Regions from separate parts of the Homo sapiens genome. Here all the other regions are linked to region 1. Evidence: fine-mapped expression QTL. A gene starts in region 1. Each other region holds a variant in brackets. All regions are shown on one strand. Distances are between the middles of the regions.

Region 1 (5,225 bases):
ACTTTTTTGATTCTTGTCATAACACTTAGCCTAAAATGCAAATGTACAGCTGTAGAAAAATACTTTATTTCTTTATATCCTTATTCTAGAAGCTTTTTTTCTATTAATTTTTGTTTGTTTGTTTTGTTTTACTATTTACTTCTAAAACTTTTTTGTTAAAAACCATGGCACAAACACACACATTATGCTAGGCATACAAAAGGTCAGGATCATCAGTCTCACTGTCTTCCACCCCCACTTCTCATCCCACCATTGTATCTGCTGTCTGTGGCTGACCAAAACATCATCATGTAGCACATGACTAGTGTGGCAAGTGCTCTGTTAGATGTAAGGCCATGATGCTAAAGCATCACAAGAGGGCATCTAACCCAGATTGGGGATGTCATGGAAGGCCGACATCCTGAGTTGAATCCTGCAAATGTAAAAACCAATAGGCAAAGAAGAGGAACAAAAAGGATTCCAGGACAAACTGAGGTCACATCTATGATCCTTGACTTTATTGTGTCTGTTTAAAGTATCTACAGTAACCTGTATCAACTTAGTCAGTGTATTAATACTAAATTTAGCTCCTTCAAAGCAGTTGGAACTATGTGCTACATAAATTTCAGCTTCACACAAGGAAGGGAAGGAGTGAAATTAGTGAACAGGCAGTTACAGCAAAAGAAAAAACATAAAAATTGAATAGCTGGCTCTGGTGAAATGAGCAAGGACTTTAGAGTCAAACTGGCCTGGATTTGAATCCTGATCCTCATTGCTTGTAGCTGTATGATCTGGACAAATGACAGTAACTGTTTCTAACCTTGATTTTCTCATCTGTAAGATGCCAATTGTAACTCCTAAGGATACTGAGGATTTTTTAAAATGCGTGTACAGTTCCTGACCAGTGGTTTGTGCCTAATAACTTATTACAAATTATTACCCAGTAAAAACCTTGAGACAAGAGTGAAAACGTAAAGCTAATTAATCCATTACTTGTTAGCAAGCAAACTACGTGCTTGAGAAAATTACTCAACTTTCATGTTTTACTTCCAGACAGTAGTTTGATTAAAAGAAAAAAAAAAATCACAGCCCAGGCATGTGGCTCACACCCTGGCACTTGGAGGCCGAGGTGGGAGCATAGCTTGAGCCTAGCAGTTTGAAACTAGCCTGGGCAACATAGATCCTATCTCTACAAAAAAAAAAAAAAAAAAAAAAAAAAAAATTGGCCCGGTGTGGTGGTGCATGCCTGTGGTCCCAGCTACTCAGGAGGCTGAGGCGAGAGGATCGCTTGAGCCAGGGAGGCTGAGGCTGCTGTGAGCCATGATCATGCCACTGCACTCCAGCCTGGACAACAGAGCAAGACCCTGTCTCAAAAAAAAAAAAAATCAGTAAAAAATATGCCGAAATAGCTTCAGAGTAATTATGAATTGCCTTCCAAAAACCACTGTTTTGCACTTGCCTGCAAGAATAGGAAAAACAAAAGGACTGTAAGGTGGCAGGATGGCAGAACCAAACAAGAGTAGTACACCTTGGAGTTTTTTCGAAATATGGGTTGGGTTTTTGGGCTCTTGGTTGATTTAAAATAAAATTTAAATGCCTTCAGCGTCTGTGATAGGTGCCAACATGAAGCTACCGAGTTCCAGAGAAAGAGGGGAGAGCTGATCACTCATCAGTGCTGCGAGACTATCAAAGGGCCCTTCAGGACCTATCTGTTCTTTGTGTGTAAAGAGTAACAATAAAAGAACACCAGTGTACCCACCGTATAGTTTAAAAATCAGGACTCAGCCTACTCTTTCCACTAACCGCGATCATGGTTTTCAAACGGAGGACCAACGGCGCTTTGCCACTGGGCCGCCAGCTGGGCCCTGCAGAGGGCCTACCAGACAATGAATCAGCTCCCTTGGAGAGGCGCCCGCGACCGCCCCACCAGCCCGAGAGCTAGAATTGAATCTGGGGGACCCCTGCGGCGCCGGGTCACGTGCCGTGGGCGCGCCACGCCTCCCCGAGGGCCGGGGGAGTCACGTGGGCGCGAGGCCCCGCCCCATCGCCCGGTCCGCGGCGAGGTGGGGCCTGGTGTTTGACCCGGAAGTGGCTGTGTTCAGCTGACAGCTGCTGATAAGGTGGCGGCGGCGAAGGCAGCGGCAGGTCGGGAGCAAGATGGCGCTGCGGCCAGGAGCTGGTTCTGGTGGCGGCGGGGCCGCGGGAGCTGGCGCGGGGTCCGCCGGGGGAGGCGGGTAGGTGTGAAGAGCCGGGCGGGAGCCCGCTGGCCTCCGCGGGGGCGGCGAGGGGCGCTTGGCAGTTATGGCAGTTTTCTCCAGCCCTGATCCTTTTCCTTGGAACTGGGCTGCGGGAGGAGGGTCATCCCCCAGGGACCCAGGCCGAAAGGGGCGTGTGGAGCCCAGGTGCTGGACGCTGGTGTTCCGGGATCAGTTGGGGGCGCCGGCCGCCTGGAATCGAGCGGGGAGCGAGCGCGCGCCCAGTGTGGGAGGGGAGAGAAGATGAGGGTCCTCTTGGGGTGGGGGGGGGCGGGGCAAATCAGGAACCGCGACTCCGCTCCTAGTCCTAGCTGCCTCTGAAGCGACCAGGGTCTTCCCTTTCCTTGGGCTTTCTAGACTTAACCGGATATGTTGGAGGGAGGGCTTTAAAAATCTGTTCACAAAGCTGGAGGACTGTTTCCAAGGGGGGTGTGTGTGTGGACTATTTGTCTCTTCCCCTTTTAGAGTGTCCTGTCCTCTTTATTTCCTTAACCCGCGACAAACAGCAGGAACATCTAAAGACCTCTGAATTAGTAATGGTCTTGAGATAGAGTTCTTGTCTTGTACACTAACTCTTAAGACTTGTCTGTCTTCTTTTTAAAAAGGCATTTAAAAACAAAGAAAGTGCACTGTTAAACAGCAGTTGCGCATTTATTAGAACAAAGCTTCCAGACTCAGCCCTTAAACAAATCTGCCCTCTGCCACATTTCAGCCAAGAACTGCCGTGGTTCTTATACCCAGAATGGTAAGGGAGATGTACGTTTTACAAGCTGACAGATTCGTTATCATTTAAGGAAATATTTTATTCTAGGAAGTTTTCACTCCACTTCTATAATGACCTAGTCTGATTTTGTTTTACTAACCAACACACAACAGCACACACATTTGGAGGTAAAAGTAGCTTTGCATCTTCAGTATCCTAAATTGTCTTTGGAAAACGAAGTGTTAGGTTTTTTTTTTATATGCAGTGTTTCAATTTCGGAGTCGTGAACACTACAAAAGTGTAAGGACCTTAAAGTTATCACCTCTTGCAGGTGCTTGTCAGGAAACGAGCAGTGGCTGTTCAATAAACCACCTGTGTGTAACCCCATTTTTCATTTCCTCTGCACATCTTTAACTTTAGATTTTTAAACTTTTTGCTTTCTCTTTTGTTCTCTCCGTTGTTTCATTAGAGGGTTTTTTAAAAAATAAATACTTCGTGTAAGCCAGTTTCTGGCTGGAGAAGAAACATATGTAATAATTCCCTTCTATTTGTTTTTTCTTTTTCTTTTGTCTTGTTTTTTTTTTTTTTTTTTTTTTTTTGAGAGGAAGTCTTGCTCTGTTGCCCAGGCCAGAGTGCGGCGGCGTGATCTCGACCCGCTGCAACCTCTGCCTCCTGGGTCCAAGCGATTCTCTTGCCTCAGCCTCGGAGCAGCTGGGATTACAGGTGCGCGCCACCATGCCCGGCTAATTTTGTTGATTGATCGATTGAGACAGAGTCTCGTTCTGTCACCCAGGCTAGAGTGCAGTGGCACGATGTCGGCTCACTGCAACCTCGACCTCCCGGGTTCAAGCGATTCTTCTGCCTCAGCCTCCCAAGTAGCTGGGATTACAGGCGTGCGCCACCACGCCCAGCTAATTTCTGTATTTTTAGTAGAGACGGGGTTTCACCATGTTAGCCAGGCTGGTCTCAAACTCCTGGCCTCAAGTGATCCGCCCACCTTGGCCTCCCAAAGTTCTAGAATTACAGGCTTGAGTCACCACGCCCGGCATCCTCTATTTATTTCCTATATGTGATTACAGTTTCTAAAATGTCCCTGGATGGTATTAATTTGATCAAGTATATGATTAATCATGGCACCAAGTTCTGGGAAAATGTAAACTTAGAAGAATTGATATCTAGGCCCAAATTTTTATTTACTTAAAAAATGTTTTTGGATGGGGAGGACCTCAGGTTCAGAAATTCAAGTGCATTATTCCCTTTAGTTTGCAGTATTTGAGTATCATTGGTCCATGGACACAAATTTTTAAAATAAATATGGGTTGAATTTTGATAGAAATTAGAATGATTTTAAAATTTCCCCCCTTTGTAAATGTAGCAACATCTGCATTCTAAAACTGTAAACGATATACAGGAGAGAAAGAAGTGGTTAAAATGATTCTTACCTTGAAAAATGTATGGTACATATGTTACATATATTGGCAACTTTCTGAGGCTGAGAAGCTGTATCCTCAATAGAAAAAGGAATATTATTTTTTTTAGAGAGTAATGGTGTAAAGGCTGAAGTTATTTTATTTCCTTTTTAATTTTCTTTTTGCCACCCACCCTCCCTGAAATTATTTTATAAGGAAACTTAACATTATGGCAACCTAAGTATATTTGAAGAAAAAAAACAGGCAACTTCTCTACACCTTTAATGGAGAAAATCCATGAACTATAACTGACTGTATTGTTTAGATACTTCTCTATATTCTAAGAGGCTAAGCAAAACACAATAACGTTTTCCAAATTTAATATTACCCTACTTTTGATTGGTGTCCTGGATGAGCTACTTTAGAATAAATGGTAGAGTTGTATAAAGGGCAAAATTTGCCCAAGAGATGAGAAGTATAAATTTTTTTTTTCTTTAATCAAGGCAGAAAAAAAAAAGAGTTGAAAGATCTGGATTAGTCTGTAGTCATTGAATGCTTACATGGGTAAGGTACTGTTCTTGATGCTGTAATGAATTAAAAAGACATCAAAACATGGTCCCCATCCTTGGAGAATGTACAAAATAACTGTGGTACAAAGTAAAGTGGAACAAAGAGGTCACGTTCTTCTGGGATGTTATCATCTGTGAACTTGTCTATTTTTTCCTGATCTTTTACAAGCTTTTAGAGGGCTTCCTCATCTTTTCTTCTTTCACTGCTTCTAGCACATTTTTGCACATAAAAAACATTCTGTAAATATTTGTGGATTTCAGCTATATCAAAGGCAAAGAAGTGGTATTTCATTTGGCCCACAGAGTTAGA
Region 2 (5,225 bases), 94 kb after region 1:
TTTGTGTGGTTTAGACCCTCTGACCTAGACTTTTATTTTTAAACTGAAAAAGTTGGTCTTGTCTATATAATTGCTGCTTTTACATAATTTATTTTCCCCTCTCAGGACAAATTCTGTCTTGCTCCATCTTACAGCTTTTCCATGTTCTCCAAGAAAGGTGTGGAACATTTTCATTAAACAGCTGTTGCTGAGGCTTCTGCTTGACCTTCTGCGTGCCCGAATGCACAGAGAGGCACCGAGGAGAGAAAGGCTTTTCTCACTCGCTCCCGATGATACCGTCTCTGGCCATTCCTGACTGAGGCAGCTCACTCTGAATGGGCACCTTTGGAGCTTTTGCCCACCACAAGGCTAGTGGGGTGTTTCTAACAACACAAGTGGGACAGCTTTTGGCAGGCTTTTCCTGAGGCCTCGGCGCTTCCATCCTGGACAGCACCACTTCCACATGGAGCTGGAATGCAAGCAGGCTGCTAATTGGCCTTAAAAATTCTTTGTTTTTTTTTGAGATGGAGTTTCACTCTTGTTGCCCAGGCTTGAGTGCAATGGCACAATCTCAGCTCAGTGCAACCTCCGCCTCCCGGGTTCAAGCGATTCTCCTGCCTCAGCCTCGTGAGTAGCTGGGATTACAGGCGTGCACCACCACGCCCAGCTAATTTTGTATTTTTAGTAGAGGCAAGGTTTCTCCATGTTGGCCAGGCTTGAACTCCGGACCTCAGGCGATCCGCCCGCCTCAGCCTCCCAAAGTACCGGGATTACAGGCGTGAGCCACTGCGCCTGGCCTAAATTTCATAACAGAACCATGACAGCAGAATCTACCTTTGCAATAAGAATGTTTCCCAGGAGTTAGAGACCAGCCCTGGGCATGATGGTAAAGACCCCAGCTAATTATACAAAAAATAATTAGCCGGGTAGGTGGAGTGCATCTGTGGACATTCGTGGTCCCAGCTACTAGGTAAGCTGAGGCGGGAGATCACAAGTCCAGGAGTTTGAGGCTGCACGTGACAGCGTAGGTGATGACAGAGCGAGACACTGTCTCTTAAAAAAAAAAAAAAAAAAGTTTCCCAGTTTGAATTTGTATTGCTGAAGCATTTTTTTGAAATGCTATATAGATGCCTGTCATGTCACAGTGGCCCAGTATCAACATTTTAAAAAGCTCACTTGGTAGCTGGGCTGGTTTCTATTCCTGAGAAATTCCAGAATGCCTCAGATAAAATTCCTTAGTATAATCCCCATTTTCCTTACCAAGGATGGTAGGCTTAGTCACTCCTTGGGAGGTGCCACAGGAAAATTCAGCAGATGTCAACAGAAAAAAAGCCTTTGCTATGAAAAGTATTCACTACCTTTCATATCTCTTGAATACTTGAAATGTTTAATTAGATGCCACCAATAGGGATCCAAGGAGTGTGGGACACGGTTGCGCTGCTTTTCTTTATAAACGTTTATTAAAATGGCTCAACGCTGCATTCAGCTTCACCTCAGCTCTTCTTGTCAGCCAGGAGCCCCGTGTCCTTGGAAACTGTAGCCAAGGTTACTTATTTCCATACTGTGCATTGTGTCAGCCCGCTTCACCCCACTGCTTGAATGGCCATTAATAAGCACTTTTCTTTTTTTGGTGGGATGTTTTGCCTTTAAAATTTTTATGGCTTAGTGTGTAATTTAATTTTTGTCTGGACATGCTTGAGATAGAAGAGGTACTGGATATATGAGGATATTTTCCATGCTTTATTTTTCCTGTGGCTACTAGTTAGCATTCCATAGGGGTTGTGAATTTTTAATTATTTGAATATTTTGTGTACATATACATATTTGAAGGGTTTTGGGGGGGTCTTATTTGTTTAAAGGTGTCTTCTGTTTGCCTATTTCAAGTGTACTTCAGCTTTGCAAAGATTATAGGGCTGTATGTTACAGAAATAGGAAATGCTGGCCCTGTACTGGGGACCACTACAAAAATTCCCTTTAGCCGGGCGTGGTGGCTCACGCCTGTAATCCCCAGCACTTTGGGAGGCCGAGCCGGGTGGATCACCCGAGGTCAGGAGTTCAAGACCAGCCTGGCCAACATGGCGAGACCCTGTCTCTACTAAAAATACAAAAATTAGCTGGGCATGGTGGCAGGTGCCTGTAATCCGAGCTACTCGGGAGGCTGAGGCAGGAGAATTGCTTGAACCAGAGAGGCGGAGGTTGCAGTGAGCCGAGATCGCGCCACTGCACTCCAGCCTGGGCAACAAGAGCGAAACTCTGTCTCAAAAATAAAAAATTCCCTTTAACACCTTCAAGGTCAAATGCCTGCCTTTGTGAACAGTTAATAAACT[G/TTG]ACATTTTCAGACATTTGCCATTCAGAAGGGAGCATTGTAGCCTGCTGTAGACCATTCCAGCAAATGTCAGAATGCAGGGCAAGATGTGTGTCGACTATGTTTTTTATGTTTAAGTTACTTACTTATTTCTTCAGGTAAGTGTGTACCAAATAACAATACTGAAAAGCCCTCCCCTTGCCAGGCCGAGGAAATAAAGCTTAAGTGAAACAGCTCTTGGGGGAAAAATGCCACTTTACAAATACTTTTCTAACAAAATAGCATTATAATGAAGTTTTTACTTAATTCCATTATTTATATGTTGACGTGAATGTAAGTGGTTAAAAAGTATTCATGTGGGACATCTCATTACTTTGTAGCTGTGGCTTTATTAACCAGTGAATGCTGTGGCCCTTAGCGAAATGCGTTGTCTTCTGCGTGATGTGGAATTCGCGCCTGTATTTTAAAAGATGGTGTGGTTTCTCCCTTGTTTGTATTTTAATAAACAACTGCTCTAATTGATGTGTTTAGACATTATAAAGCTTTACCTTTAAAATATTTTCAGGGTCTGTTCTGAAATCACCCCTTGTTAAACTTCTCTAACCAAAATACAAGTGTAGAAGAATGTCAGGCTACTAAGCCTTTTCTTGGTCTTGTCTTTGTTGGGTTGATTTCACATAGATGCAAGTCACTAGGATGAACAGGGGCCCATGCGCTTAAGATTACAAAGGTGTTCAGCTTCCCACGTGCGAGGAACTCTTAGTTACAGCCCCGTAGTGCTGCTTGCCAGGAATTCTACAGGTAATTTTCATTAATTACCAAGAACATCTGTCACCAGGTGTCTTCTCGCCCTAGGACAATGGTTATTTGGGTGCTCTTATTCAGAAACTCCCAGACTCAAAGCTGAGCCTCCTACTAAAGCAGCCAGAGCCTCCCTGGATTTTTTTTTTTTTTTTTTTTTTTTGATCTTATAGCATTTGTTGTTTCCTCTGATTTCCCATAGAAACTATTAATAATTTTTTTCATTTTAGTTTTTCTAGAGAATAATGATGCATGTTTATAACAGTGGGCAGCCACGGGTATAAAGCAATAAAAGGTAGAATTTAGATGGGAAAAAACCATTGCCACAAACCAGGTAAAATGTGGAGTATATTTGTCTAAATATGTAGCTACTGGCCTATGTATGGCTTCCTGCCAAAACTGACCCAAAAAATCTAGAAAACTATTCCTCTGGTGAGCAAGCTACAACCTTCCTGATAAATGAAGCCAAAGAGCAGTGCCGCAGCGGGTTCCCATTGCACGGGCAGACGCCCAGGATGCCCTCCATGCAGAAGAAAGGCATGCCCTAGGACAGTGGTTACTTGGGGGCACGTGGAAAGTGCCCAGGAGTGTCCCAGGAGTGGGACAGGGGCGAGCTCATTCACCTTCTACCATGTATCTGATGATGATGAGCGGTGCTGCCCGTTTTATCAGGAGCAGTGAACTGGGTGACAGACAGTCCCAAAGTTAAACAAAGGCAGCCATTGTTTGTTTTTGTTACTTGCTTATCGCTCATACTGAGGTTTGGTTTAGGGCATTTTCGTATGTGGTAATAATAGTCAAGCAGAGGCACCTTTTATTGAAAACCAGTTTCTCTGATGGAGGACACGCTGCTTCGGGGCGCTCCACTAACCAAGAGGAAACCAAAACCAGCACCCCTGATCAGAGCGTGCACTATCAATCATCTCCCACCGGCCCAGCACCGGGGACGGTGTGTCTGCCTGTCCACCAGGATGTGACGCGCCGACAAGACTCTGCTGGGATGTGTATTTTAAGTAATGTTCCCAACTGGCACAGGAGCCACATTTCAGCAGTTAGTTAGTTAGTTACTGGAGAGCACCTTTTTCCCATCATCGACACACACACACCTTGAAATTATTAGTAAAAATTCTAATATGTTAAGCATATAGATTTATTAAAAATAATGCTAATATAATCCTGGGCACATGGATTCCAAGAGAGATTTTGCAGCAGATTTCATTATAGTTACTTAACAGCTAAATAATAAGGGTGTATTTAACTTACTTACAGAGTCACTAAATAATGGAGGGGAAAGGAAAGAGTAGGGCTAATCCAGTAGAGACTGAAGCTGGTTATCAACCTTCCCTAAGCATCTGTCTGGTCCGCAGCCTGGGGCAAAGCTTGTCTCTAAAGGGTTAATGAGGCCCCAAAGTGATTTTTGCACTGAGCTCCTCCTGCACCTACCAAGGTGCCAAAGGCATGAGATTCAGAAGAGAGCAGAACCAGTTTATTAAACTGTTCAAATTGGTAAAAATGATTAAAAGCTAAAGATTTCCATAAACACTATTCCAAAATGTTAATTTTAAAAATGTGACTAGCAATGTATGCATTCCCTTTATGTCCCCTCCCTCCCTATCTCTTAAAATAAATTTGAACACCCAGTGTAAAAAACACTTGAGGGAGAACCAGAAGTCAGCCATTTGAGAAGAGAGTGGAGAGGGAGCAGACGGCGGGGAGCAGATGCCGGCCCCGCTCGGGCTGCTGACGCAGGCTTCAGTGGCACTAAATCCCCCAGTAAGGCATCAGGTGTCGGGACTCCTTCTCATAGACGTCGGGAACTATGCCATAAGGTGTCTGTACCATTTTAACTGTCGACTTCCCAAAGAGCTGGCGCTCGTAGTCTATCAGTTGCCTCCAGAAGCCTACGTTGGGCCTGATGACAGGTCGCCGGGCTTTCACCCAGTTGTACGCCTCCAGCAGGCACACGTTGTGGAATTTCATCAGGTACGCGATACACAGCGTGGCTGAGCGGCTCACCCCTGCAGCACAGTGCACCAAGGTGGCCCCGTGCTTCCTGCTCACACTGTGGATCTTGTCAGCCACGGTGTCAAAGTACAGTCCAATGGGGGCATGCGGCATGTCAGCCAGAGGCACTTTAACAT
Region 3 (5,225 bases), 71 kb after region 1:
TTGGGAGGGGAGGCAGGCAGATAACTTGAGATCAGGAGTTCGAGACCAGCCTGGCCAACACAATGAAACCGTGTATCTACTAAAAATACAAAAATTAGCCAGGCATGATGGTGTGCACCTGTAGTCCCAGCTACTCAGGAGGCTGAGGCAGGAGAATTGCTTGAACCCAGGAGGCGGAGGTTGCACTGAGCCGAGATCACACCACCGTACTCCAGTCTGAGCGACAGAGCAAGAATCTGTCTCAAAAAAAAAAAAAAAAAAAAAAGAAGAGGGTTGTGGTAGCGAGGAAGAGCCTCTGCCTGAACTAAGGTGAGTAGCCAAAACCTTTGACTGTATTATCCCCTTCTCCCAGGATCACACAAGAGGAGTTTGAGCCTTGGTGATAAAGAAATAAGCCGTTCTTCTCCTTCTCCAGCTTTGGAGCAGCCTTTCAGAGACCGTTCCAATACTCTGAATGAGAAGCCCGCCCTGCCCGTCATCCGAGACAAGTACAAAGACCTGACGGGAGAGGTGGAGGTGAGAGGAGAGCTTTCTACAAGGGGTGGGTAACAGACCAGCAAGCACACAGGGCCCCAAGAAAGAATGCTGTCAGCTTTCACATGGGGAAAATGAGGGGCAGAAAGACACAAAGCACCAGACATAAACTATGTAATTAAAGTGAGGCAAGGGTAACATTAGCCCTGGGTGAAAACATTTCCCAGGTGTGGCACCCACTGAAACTAATCAGTGACCCTAAAACCAAAACTATTCATGGGACTTCACAAGGATGGCAGTGTTTGTATAATTCTTCTTGAGCACTTAGACTTTATTGTCTTCATGAAACCTCAAAATAGAGGAGACAGGGAAAATATTCTGAATTTTTTATTTCTGTCTGCTGCATCTTAGTGCCACGCTATGTTCCTCCTATGGTCAACACACTTAATTTCCCACCTTTCCCTACTCCTTGTTACATGTGCACATGGGCCACGTCCTCACACACAGCCACACAGCGTTATAACTGGGGCGTGGAAAGCCAGTGGCTTAATAGCAGTTTCTGTACCAGATAGCTACATGCTGAGTGCCTCCGAAGAAAGGCTTACACTGTTACTGATGGAACAAATGAGGCAACACTCACAGGGGGAAGCTGCTGGAAAGCATGTCCCTTAGACTCACAGGTCCTGTGCTCAGAAGTTACATTTATTAGTAATTTAACATAGTTATTAGTGAGTTCAAAAAGATAAACTGCGGCTGGGCATGGTGGCTCATGCCTGTAATCTCAGCACTTTGGAAGGCCAAGTCGGGCAGATCACTCGAGCTCAGGAGTTCAAGACAAGCCTGAGCAACATGGTGAAACCCCACCTCTACCAAAAATACAAAAATTAGCCTCATGTGGTGGTGCGTGCCTGTAGTCCCAGCTGCTCTGGAGGCTGAGGTGGGAGGATTGCTTGCGTCCAGTGCAGTGAGCAGAAATCATGCCACTGCACTTCAGCCTGGGCAACAGAGCAAGACCCTATCTCAAAACAAAAACAAAAACAAAAAAAACATAAACTGCTTGAACTAGAGTGATCGTAATAAAAAGGAAAGTCCTCCAAGCACTTTGAATTGACAGAGTCATCAATAGAAGATTCCAGGTTTGTGTGTTTAACCCAGTTCTTTTTAACAAATTCACAGGAAAATGAGAGATATGCATATGAATGGCAGAGATGCCTGGGGAGTGCCCTGAATGTGAGTATGTCACTTACGCGTTCACACATATGTGAGTGCTCTTTTGTGCCTTTTTGCCTTCTTGGTTCATTTGAATTGACAGAGGCAAACTTCAGGAGAGCCTTACTTGGATGTCCCTGGGCAAAGAGTAACTCTGTGGAAGTCATGCATCTAAGGTGAGGCTTCTTTCACACTTACAATAGCAGACCGGCTCATGTGTCAGTCATCCCCTCATCTGTCATTGTGTTTAAGAAATAACAAAGTGATTTCATTAACTCTGACTAAATCAAAATAATATTTAAGCTAAAGAACCTGTCTTGGCTGGGTGCGGTGGCTCAACACCTATAATCCCAGCACTTTGGGAGGCCAAGGCGGGCGGATCACGAGGTCAGGAGTTTGAGACCAGCCTGACCAACATGGTGAAACCCTGTCTCTACTAAAAATGCAAAAATTAGCCAGGCGTGGTGGCACGTGCCTGTAATCTCAGCTACTCAGGAAACTGAGGCAGGAGAATCACTTGAACCCGGGAGTC[A/G]GGGGTTCAGTGAGCCGAGATCTTGCCACTGCACTCCAACCTGTGCTACAGAGCGAGACTCCGTCTCAAAACAAAGCAAAACAAAACAAAAGGAAAAAAACATATTTTCTCTTCCAGAGAAATGGAGGATTGTTTCTTCAAGGATAAAATGAGATTTTTTGACACCTCCTGGCTTTTCGGTTGGGTTTTCTACTAATAGTAAATTGATTTGCAATGACTTTTCTCAGTTATGTAAGGTGATGTGATTTCATTTCTTGTAGGTCATTAAGAAGGCAAATGATACCTTAAATGGAATCAGTAGTAGTTCTGTTTGCACAGAAGTAATTCAGTCAGCTCAAGGCATGGAATATTTATTAGGTATGTTCTTTCATATTTTACTATTGAAAATGATGGCCCTTTGCATTATTTTCAGTTTTCCCTTTAATTATTTTAAGCTAGATCTCTCAAGTTACATATGACTTCAGTAAGAAGCATCTGTATTTGTGGGTAAGACACTCAAGCTACAGGCAGTAAACTATTGGACTTAATTAAAAAGTCTCTATGGCTAAGTTTCCTCATCCTTGTTATATACGTAATAGCAAAAATGTAAAATTATATCTGTGTTACTGGTTTATCAAAGAATCTGAACTACCGATGCACTAAAGTAAAATCATCTTGTCTCCCATCAATTCCTTACCATACTCTATATTCTTTCTCTCGACCGCTTAATGACACCACAGAGTCCTTAACCTCCTGGCCATCTGCAGCAATTTGATGTGTCAGTCCAACGGGAAAGTGTAGTCTCTGTCCACTTCGGTGTTCCTCCCTTCCCCAAGCTCAGGCTTGGCCCGTGGCCAGAGCCACACATGCTGGACCCTAATCTTTTTCAAATCTTTACTCAAATGTCAGCTTCTGAGTGAAATCTTTCCTAGCATCCATCTCTCCAAAGAGTATCGTCTCTCCCTACCCCGGTACTTCCCATCCCATTCTCTGCTGGATTTTCTCCTTAGCCCTATTACCTTTAATTTCTTACATATGTTACTTATTATTCTTTTCTTTTCTTTTCTTTTTTAAGACAGGTTCACACTCTGTCACCCAGGTTGGAGTGTAGTGATGTAGTCATGACTCACTGCAGCGTCCACCTCCCAGGCGCAAGCAATCATCCCACCTCAGCCTCCCAAGTAGCTGGAACCACAGGTGTGCACCACCATGCACCCAGCTAATTTTTGTAGTTTTTGTAGAGACAGGTTTCCGCCATGTTGCCCAGGCTGGTCTCGAACTCCTGAGCTCAAGCGACCCACCCACCTTGGCCTCCCGAAGTGCTGGGATCACAGGCGTGAGCCACTGCACCTAGCTACTTGTTGTTTTTACTCTCTGTCTCCCTTCACTAGAATGAACCTCCAAGAAGGCAAGGATTTTGGTCTGTTTTGTTCACTGGTGTGTCCCCAACACCTAATCTAGTGTCTTGCACGTAGTTGGCACTCAAAAATATTTGCTGGATGAGTGGAGAGTGAAGGGATGTAGTCTCTGCCTTACTCCTGCCACCTCACTTGGGGTCTTCTTTTCCTGCTCAAACAGGCACAGTTCTGCATAAGCAGATGTCCACCAGGAAATGGGGCACCTGTCTTTTCTCCTAGTATCCTTGTATCTATGGAAGATTCTCTTAGAAGCCCCCTCACTTGGCTTAGGGTGGGCAGTAATTTCTGCCCCTCTCTTGGGAAAGGAAGAAGAAAAGCCGTAGTGCTGACACAGGGCTGCTGAGGCCCCGCTCTGAAGATCCCCTGGAATTCCTCCAGTGTTCACTTAGAGAGATCGGGGTCATGTCTTTGGTGACTGTTACATTGCAGGGGTTAGGGATGTGTCTGGTGGCTGTCCTTAGAATGTGGAGGTACTTAGCACCTCTCATCCTTGCTTCAAGAGTTCAACCACAATTTAGAGACCATAGGAAAAGAACTGTTCTGCATCCTGTTATGTGTTTAAAGATAAGTGAAGTCAAAGTGTTTGTAAGACCTTCAGATTCAGAGGGGTGAGATGTTTCTTCATTACTTTGTGATGCTATTAACATTTAGATTCTTTTAAATTTTTACTATCCCCATTTTCAGCTAGTTTATTGGGATTTCCCAGATTCAAACAGATGGACTCATAAATAAACCTCCCAAAAAACAAAAGCTAATAACTTGCATAGTGCCTGCCATTCTCCAAGCACTGTTGTAAGCCTTTTACCATATTACCCTATTTAATCCTCTCAACCATCCTTGGAGGAGCTACTGTTACCATCCCAACTTCACAGATGAGGAAACTGAGGTACAGAGAGATTATGTGACTTGCCTAAGGTCATGTAGCCAGTAAGAGGCATAGCTGGGGTTTGAACCCAAGCAGTGCAGCTTCTATGCTCTTACCAGTAAGCTATACAGCAGCATTGAGAAGTGGATTGGTCCCAAAGAATAGTAAGTACACCTCTGTCCAGATACACCCATTGTTTCTCACAGATATCAGCAAGCAATAATGCTCCCCTGTCTGGGTCCTCTGTGTCTCCACTGCCAACACTCTCTCTCTGCTCTCTCATCCCGTCAGGTGTTGTTGAAGTGTACAGGGTAACCAAGCGTGTGGAGCTGGGGATAAAAGCCACTGCAGTGTGCAGTGAGAAACTCCAGCAGTTGCTGAAGGACATCGATAAAGTATGGAATAACCTAATCGGCTTCATGTCACTCGCCACACTCACAGTAAGCCCATGAGACAACTCAGCAGTTGCTTTCCTTTCCAGAAACCTAAGTTGTAAAGCAGAGTGTATATTCCTATGATGGTACTTATTAGAGGCTGGAGGTGCCAACTGGAGCATGTTATATTAAAGGAGGGAGATCACAGGTGTGTGGTCAGTTGAACAGTACCAGGTGGGCTTCTGATCTCTCTAAGGCCCAGTGAACCTAAGGAAAAAACCAGTACAGGAAAACATTCACTCTGGCTACACCTTTCTTAATTCACATAATACACGGAAGTTTTGCAAAGCAGTGGTTTGAGATACTCCCTTTGC

Direction of the effects. Positions count from the first base shown, and alleles are read on the strand shown. Sizes are in standard deviations (SD) of each study's normalised expression.
For the expression in kidney cortex of the gene that starts at base 2,074 in region 1, allele G in region 2 goes with a higher level than allele TTG (moderate effect, 0.75 SD a copy in GTEx).
For the expression in lymphoblastoid cells of the gene that starts at base 2,074 in region 1, allele G in region 3 goes with a higher level than allele A (moderate effect, 0.46 SD a copy in GEUVADIS).

Evidence for each region. PIP is the estimated chance that this variant, and not a neighbour inherited with it, causes the effect. A credible set is the group of variants that fine-mapping cannot tell apart.
Region 2: its variant is the best candidate, but not a certain one, in a credible set for the expression of SYNRG in kidney cortex (GTEx, PIP 0.87).
Region 3: its variant is the best candidate, but not a certain one, in a credible set for the expression of SYNRG in lymphoblastoid cells (GEUVADIS, PIP 0.78).

What each region holds. Positions count from the first base shown.
Region 1 is chr17:37,606,267-37,611,491 of GRCh38, reverse strand. SYNRG (synergin gamma) reads left to right here and starts at 2,074. Exons shown (of 22, transcript NM_007247.6): 1 at 2,074-2,213. The coding sequence starts at 2,137. DDX52 (DExD-box helicase 52) reads left to right here. Exons shown (of 15, transcript NM_007010.5): 15 at 1-1,753.
Region 2 is chr17:37,512,490-37,517,714 of GRCh38, reverse strand. DUSP14 (dual specificity phosphatase 14) reads right to left here. Exons shown (of 3, transcript NM_007026.4): 3 at 4,217-5,225. The coding sequence ends at 4,846. SYNRG (synergin gamma) reads left to right here. Exons shown (of 22, transcript NM_007247.6): 22 at 1-2,908. Among named protein-coding and RNA genes, the nearest start is that of DUSP14, 25 kb to the right of the region's middle. RefSeq lists an enhancer at 4,545-5,058 and a silencer at 4,817-5,207. The variant G/TTG (reference allele first, on the strand shown) is at 2,307.
Region 3 is chr17:37,535,671-37,540,895 of GRCh38, reverse strand. It overlaps SYNRG (synergin gamma), which reads left to right. Exons shown (of 22, transcript NM_007247.6): 16 at 353-516; 17 at 1,651-1,704; 18 at 2,476-2,572; 19 at 4,769-4,917. Among named protein-coding and RNA genes, the nearest start is that of DUSP14, 48 kb to the right of the region's middle. The variant A/G (reference allele first, on the strand shown) is at 2,216.